2 linked regions of the Homo sapiens genome follow. The protein of the gene in region 2 interacts with the protein of the main gene of each other region in a biochemical or structural test. Each region holds a gene or a part of one and is shown on either strand. Other genes may lie near its edges.

What was found.
Region 1: the proteins of TRIM33 (region 2) and ERG form a complex in vitro, tested with the Homo sapiens proteins (one large-scale study listed by BioGRID).

What each region holds. Positions count from the first base shown.
Region 1 is NC_000021.9:38,397,478-38,400,977, reverse strand, and holds part of ERG (transcriptional regulator ERG), read left to right. Parts: intron 1-332; coding exon 333-404; coding exon of another isoform or gene 405-616; exon of another isoform or gene 617-906; intron 907-3,500. UniProt on the Homo sapiens protein: Transcriptional regulator. May participate in transcriptional regulation through the recruitment of SETDB1 histone methyltransferase and subsequent modification of local chromatin structure.
Region 2 is NC_000001.11:114,501,204-114,504,703, forward strand, and holds part of TRIM33 (E3 ubiquitin-protein ligase TRIM33), read right to left. Parts: intron 1-3,500. UniProt on the Homo sapiens protein: Acts as an E3 ubiquitin-protein ligase. Promotes SMAD4 ubiquitination, nuclear exclusion and degradation via the ubiquitin proteasome pathway. According to PubMed:16751102, does not promote a decrease in the level of endogenous SMAD4.

The DNA of each region.
Region 1 (3,500 bases), on a different chromosome or scaffold from region 2:
ATGTACCATATAATTTTTTAATAAAACGAGATTGCCCAGTGGGAAGTGGGATTGAGGGGGACACAGATAGGGCTTCATCAAGAAGTTATAAAATCAAAACACAAAACGCTTTATAGCAAACGGGGCACAGGAGTACACCAAGGCTCCAAGTTTCACTTCCATCTTGAGAATCTGACAGGTGCACCTGTCTGTTTCTCCGGAGCTCTGTTAAGGCAGGTTTGAGGAGGTCTCTTCCCTTTGTTGTCATAGGGAAAAGTAGATTTGGCGCTGATGTTGAGATCGACAACCACAACAAAAGACCTTCACATGTTTGTCTTTCCTTTTGTCTGCAGGGGGTGCAGCTTTTATTTTCCCAAATACTTCAGTATATCCTGAAGCTACGCAAAGAATTACAACTAGGCCAGGTACGAAAACACCCCTGTGTGATCTCTTCATTGAGAGACATCCCAGATGTCCTGCTGAGATCCGTGCCCTAAGTCACGTGATACAAAGAGAGCTGATCCCGGAGCTGAAGCCAGTCCCAGACAGTCTTATTCTGCCTCTGTTGATTTGGAGACTAAATCCACTCAAACCATTTCATTCAAAGACCACACTAAAGGAATTAAGAGCAGATTAGCCCTTTAACTAGCTTTTCAGAAAGACAGATGGGCAAAGAAGGCATCCTGGATGCCTGGCAGTTAGGAATAGGCCGACTTTTGAACTAACAGAAGGATCTGTCCCTCCTCGGGGGAAGAGCACAAAACAAGGACACTCCCCAGATTCACAGTGACCGATTATCAGTATGTCACAAGAAGCCAGTCTTGCAGAGCAGAAGCATGCAACCAGTAGTATTTACATCTGAATCTTACTGCCTGTCCTCCAAATGATTTAATTAGGTAATAAATTTACATGCCATTCATGCAAAAATAAACATCTATCAAGTGCCCATTAGTGCCAAGCGTGGTGTTAGACTCTGGGAATATATAGATGAACCAGGCTTCAGTAAGCTTCCTGTCTTCAGAAAGTTTACTTCTTCATTCAGCTTGGTTTGTTCATTTGCTGAGTGCCTCCTCTGTGCCAGCCACGGATGGTATGATGGTGAACAAACCGAAATGTTTTGCCTCCAGTTCTAGATGTTTCAGTAGAGTGACCTAGAGCCAGAGAGACACATATGTACACATAAATGTTTTCCCTAATGTGATAGATTTTATGGTAGAGGAACCACTTCTAGCAATACAGGGCGTAGGAGCAGGGGTGGGGAGGAACTCAATCCCCCATGAAAGGCATAAAGATGCTTTCCAGAGGAATGGCCACATGGCAAAGGGGAATTAGATGTTTGCCAGACGAATAATGAGCAGGGAGAGAGGGCATTTCCCAGAAGGGTATAGCTTGCCTTTAGCATTTGTCCTCTCCCTGGGACTTACATCAGCCCGATAAGCTAGGTATCATTGTACCAGCCTCACAGCTGATGACATTGTGTTCAGGGTGGTGGGATGGTTTCTCCATATTCATACATGCTTCCAGAATTCATGTTAAACTCTATCACATATCCGGAATACACAAGTCTCAGTTCGAACTGGTTCAAGATCTAGGCTTGGCAACTACTCTTTCTTTCTAATGAGAAAGACTGGGGGCCCAGGGAGCTAAAGAGAATGAATGAGGAAGCTTCTCAGGCTGTTCAAATACTGACACTGCCCTGGTTACTGCCTAGTGACTTCAGGCTGGCAATTTTCTCTTCTCTAACGTCAGAGAAAAAGTTTACTGTCTTGCTCCTGGGAAGCATGATGGAAAGGCTTAGCAGCTAAGGGGTACTAAGAGGTAGTAAGTCATCTCTGTCATGTAAAAGATTTCACAGGCCATTGAAACATGGGCAAGACCCAGTGCCTAGAGTCTGCAAGATTGGTCCTAAAGACATCCACCACGTGTATTGCGAGTGGAAAATAGAAATTCATGTTTGACTCAAGCTTTAGAGATTTTGTAATTCTGTGAGCATTTAAAAAATATTTCCATATAAACTAAAAAAATAAAAACTATTTCCAAAACATTTGGCTAGGGTTTTAAAAATTTTTTTACTTTTTAATTTTGTATTTGTTTGTTTATGTTAAGACATCTCATAGGTGCCTCTGACTGAGTTGCAAAGCCAGGGGTTGTGAGCTAGTATTATAAACTGTGTTAAAAGATCACAACACTGGCCAAATTCATTGGCACAATCTCTCTGTCAGACAAGCCAGCTGACTGATGCTACCTGGTTAAGACAGTGGGTCCTGGAGCTGCTTTGTTTTCACATTTTAGGATATGGTGGATTTGGAAGGTATGGCCCATCCAGGTGGATGGAGAAGAGGGTGACTGTGAGGATGTTGGTTGGGACTCCCTCTCTGCCCAACCCAGGGAAGGCAAGGGTGGCAAACTCAGACACCTCCCATGCCGCTCTGATGGTGGTCTTCCATGGGCCCATAATTTGAGCGTGACCTGGGAGAGAGCACACTTCCACAGCTCCACTACTAGTCAAGTATGTTTTCGCGACTCAGTTTGTACCTGAAATAACCTGTTTTGACCACTGCTACTGTGATTATGAGAACCAATACAAATATTGGTATCTGACCTGTAAAGAATTTAAAGCAGACTGAACAAGCCAGAGGACTATTTACTGTAGGCCCTATTCAGGGACTTGAACTTGGAGATAAGAACTAGTTATACACCTCGGGTCATCCATTGCTAAGCGATCAACCTTAAAGGACTGCTCCTGTGGAGATAAAAGCTGTGAACCTGCAACTGGAGAATGAACGTCGTGATGGCTGAGGGGGAAGAGCTTTTGCATCACTAACTTTCAGAGCTGAACGAGCTCCAGAGGGAGGTCACTGGGAATCTGACGATATCCCTGTGGTCAGTGGGTACCTGACTACTTTCAGAAAGGTGATTGTTGACTGTTTCTTTGAAGGTCCTTGGGGATACAGACCCAAATCCCTGTCTCCTCCACTCTTGGTTTGCTGTGCCATGATCTTCATTTCCATACCCTTTGTCTAATCCCACATCCGAGGGAACCGAACTCTGGTCAGCGTTATTGTGCTGACCATGAAGCAAGCCAGGCTCCTAGGTAACAACTCTACTTAGACCAGAATCTGTCTCTTCTCTGCATGGTGGCCGTTTCATTATAGAGTCCCTGATAGAGGAGACAGTGGTGTTCAGGGTTTACTGGTTAAATTAGACAGCATTCCGCACCCTTTCTGCAGAGACTCCTACACATGTGTGTTGTCCTGCTGCATCCACCTTCCCAGCACTTCCTCACCACCCTTCCCTCCTTCCCTTCCCACTGTGAGTCACCCATCCCTGGGTTACTGCCCCAACCTACCTTTTCTTTTCTTTTATCTTCTTTTCTCTTCTTTTTTTTTTTTTTTTTTTTTTGAGATGGAGTCTCACTCTGTTGCCAGGCTGAAGTGCAGTGGTGCAATCTCGGCTCACCACAACCTCTGCCTCCCGAGTTCAAGTGATTCTTCTGCCTCAGCCTCCCGAGTAGCTGGGGC
Region 2 (3,500 bases):
AAAAAAAAAGAATTTGGGAGGGACTTGGCAGGCAGTTCTGGCTTAGTGCCTCTAAGAAGGCTGCAGTCAAGATGTCAGCCAGGAAGGACTGCAGTCATCTGAAAGCTTGATTAGGATAGAGAATCTACCTCAAAAGCGGCTCTTTCACATAGCTGGCAAGTTGGTGCTGGGTCTTTGCAGAAGACCTCAATTTTTCTCCATATGGCCTCTTTAAAGGACTACTAGAGTATCTTTCACAGAATGACAGCTGTTTTTCACCCAGAACAAGGGATTCAAAGAGCAAGGAAAAAACTGTATATATGGCTTTAATGACTTTTTAATAAAGTCACTATTAATTCTATTATATTCTCTTGGTCACGGAGACCAGCCTTGAGCAACTGGACAGCAACCATACAACGGTGTGAATAACAGGAGAAAAGGAACAAGGGGCCATCTTAGAGGCTGGCTACCACACCAAGCCATAGGCTCAGAATAAATCTTCAACCTACATCATCAACAAAGGATCAGTATACAGAATTTGTCAAGAATTCTTGTAAATCAAAACAAAAAATGTAAGCAATCTAAAGAAAAACATAAAACACATGGACAAATAATTCACAAAAGGAACATAAATAGCATATAAGCATTCAAATGTACTCATTAGTACCATATAGTGCATGCTATTTACTCATCACTGGGGCATAGGCTTTAAATATTTTTCTAAAAATGGTATATTTATGTTTATCCATCCTTGTTCTTTTTCCCACTTCCCCTTGAGTCAAATGGCTAGGGATAGATGTGCAATTTGTGGCCAAAGAAGAGACAGAGGTTAATTTATCTACCATCCTGAGCCCAATCTCTGAAGTTGGCTTAGATAGACTGTCATAAACATGAAAAAAATCAGTAGATCTATAGTGACCTATTTTTAGAAGTTTAACTTCAGTTAATAAGTACTTTCTTCATTTTTACATTTTACTAAAGGGAGGCTTTTTCTGAACTGTTATGGGTACTCCAAAATGAAGAACTATAAATGTATAAATCTGCCACCTACTATCTTATGATCTGACATTCTTCCTACTGGCCCAAAGACTCTGAGACATTATCATGTTCTTAATGTCCTTTAACAGAGCAGGGCTCAAACTTCCTGGTCTCAGGACCTCTCTTACAGTCTTAGTTACTGAGGAACACAAAGAGCTTTTGTTTAGATGGGGTATGACCATCAAATGTATAATAAAAATGGATGTTTTAAATATATTTTAATTCATTACAAGATGAATTAAAAATGAATCTTAAATTTTAAAATGTTAAAATGACGTTTACTTTATTACTAGTTTTGTTTGTTTTCTCAGACAGTCTCACTGTCACTCAGACTGGAGTGCAACGGCATGATCGCAGTTCACTGTAGCCTCAACCTCCCAGCCTCAAGTGATCCTCCCACCTCAGCATCCTGAGTAGCTGGAACTACAGGCGCACACCACCACACTCGGATAATTTTTTTATTTTTTCTGGAGTCGGAGTCTCACTATATTCCCCAGGCTGGTCTTGAACTCCTGGGCTCAAGTGATCCTCCCACCTCAGCCTTCGAAAGTGCTGGGATTATAGGCATGAGCCACCATGTCCGGCACGACAGGTTTAAACAACACTTTTAAAAATCAGAAATAACTGTATTTCCTAAAACAAAAAAAAATTAATAAAGAGTGTCATTGTGATACATTTTAAAGATCTCTTTAACATGTGGTTTAATAGAATATGGCTGGATATATGCTTCTGCATTTAATGTTTCAATATGTTGTTTCTTTGAAGAATATAAAGAAAATCTGGCTTCATACAGCTAAGTATCTAAGAAAAGGGAAAAGCAGATTTTAATACCCTTTTCAGATCATTGTGTGGATATTTTTCTTTGATATAACACAAAAACTTAAGAAGAATATTTATTTTTTAAACATCAGTTGCAATGTGGCATCTCAAACCTTAAAAATAAACTTGACTACTCTCTCGCGTTAAAATCTATTTATTGGCTGGGAGTGGTGGTTCATGCCTGTAATACCAACACTTTGGGAGGCTGAGGTGGGCAGATCAACTGAGGTCAGGAGTTCAAGACCAGCCTGGCCAACATGGCAAAACCCCATCTCTACTAAAAATACAAAAATTAGCCAGGCATGGTAGCGTGTGCCTGTAATCCCAGCTACTTGGGAGGCTGAGGCAGAACTGCTTAAACCCAGGAGGCGGAGGTCGCGGTGAGCCAAGATTGCGCCACTGCACTCCAGTGTGGGTGACAAAGCAAGACTCCATCTCAAAAAATAAAAATAATAAAATAAAATACAATCTATTTATTATTGCTCTGTTTTGCACTTAACATCATGCATTTCTCATTTAGAATATATTGCAATAAGCTACGCAGATCTTTGAAATGTTGACATTACACAATATCAAAAAAATTCACGTTCATTAATATCACCACCAATCTCTTCAGGAAAGTCTTTAAATACTGAGAAACTGACCAGCTCATGGCAGCAAATACCAATTTTCCAAAATTCTAATTTTCATTTAAAATCTCAATTTTTATCACTGGCAACATATGTCAGTTGTTTTCCTGGAAATGACAGGCTCAATTCATTCACTTCTGAGAAAATGGCTGCCAAATACCCATGCCTAAAAACCATAGTTTTTAAGTAAAACCATAGTTTCAAGTAAAATAGTTTTCTATGAAAAAAAGCAAATTCAGCTTGGAACTCAAAAAACTGCACAAGTACTCTTCTTCCACTTTCTTCCGCAGCAGAAGCATTTTAGGCACATTTCCCACTTCATCACACAGAGCTTTAAAGATCAAAATGTAATATAGTAATTGTTACTGTTTCATAAAGGATATTAAGTGACAATGACATAGGTTTATTTTTGTTCTTTCTCTAAGTGTGTGAAAGTAAATATGCAATGACTTTTATAGTATGGCTTGGAGCCATTATCCTTTTTTTTTATTTTTTTATTTTTTTTATTTTTTTAAAGACAGGGTCTCACGCCATTGCCAAGGCTGGAGTACAATGGCACAATCATGGCTCACTGCAGCCTCGACACTCCGTGCCTCAGGCAATTCTCCCACTTCAGTCTCCTGAGTAGCTGCGACTACAGACACGCACTACCATGCCTATTTAATTTTTTTGTATTTTTTGTAGACACAGGGTTTCATCATGTTACCTAGACTAGTCCCCTACTCCTGGACTCAAGCAATCCACCCACCTCGGCCTCCCAAATGGAGTCACTCACCATCTTAATTCACGCAGAGGTGATGGCAGTTTTATCCATCATTGCTTTTGCACCATTAATATAAATGTCAGCGCAGTGAATAAGGAGAATATCAAATTAGTGTAATTATGAAAATAGTTTTAAACTTGTGCACCTCTAAAAGGGTCTCAGTGACACGGTCACTACCATCACCCCCACCCCAGCATTCTGTGGCCCACACTTTGAGAATCACTGCTTTAAGGTATTCTCATTTAGGACCCACTGACAGCAGAATCCATGAG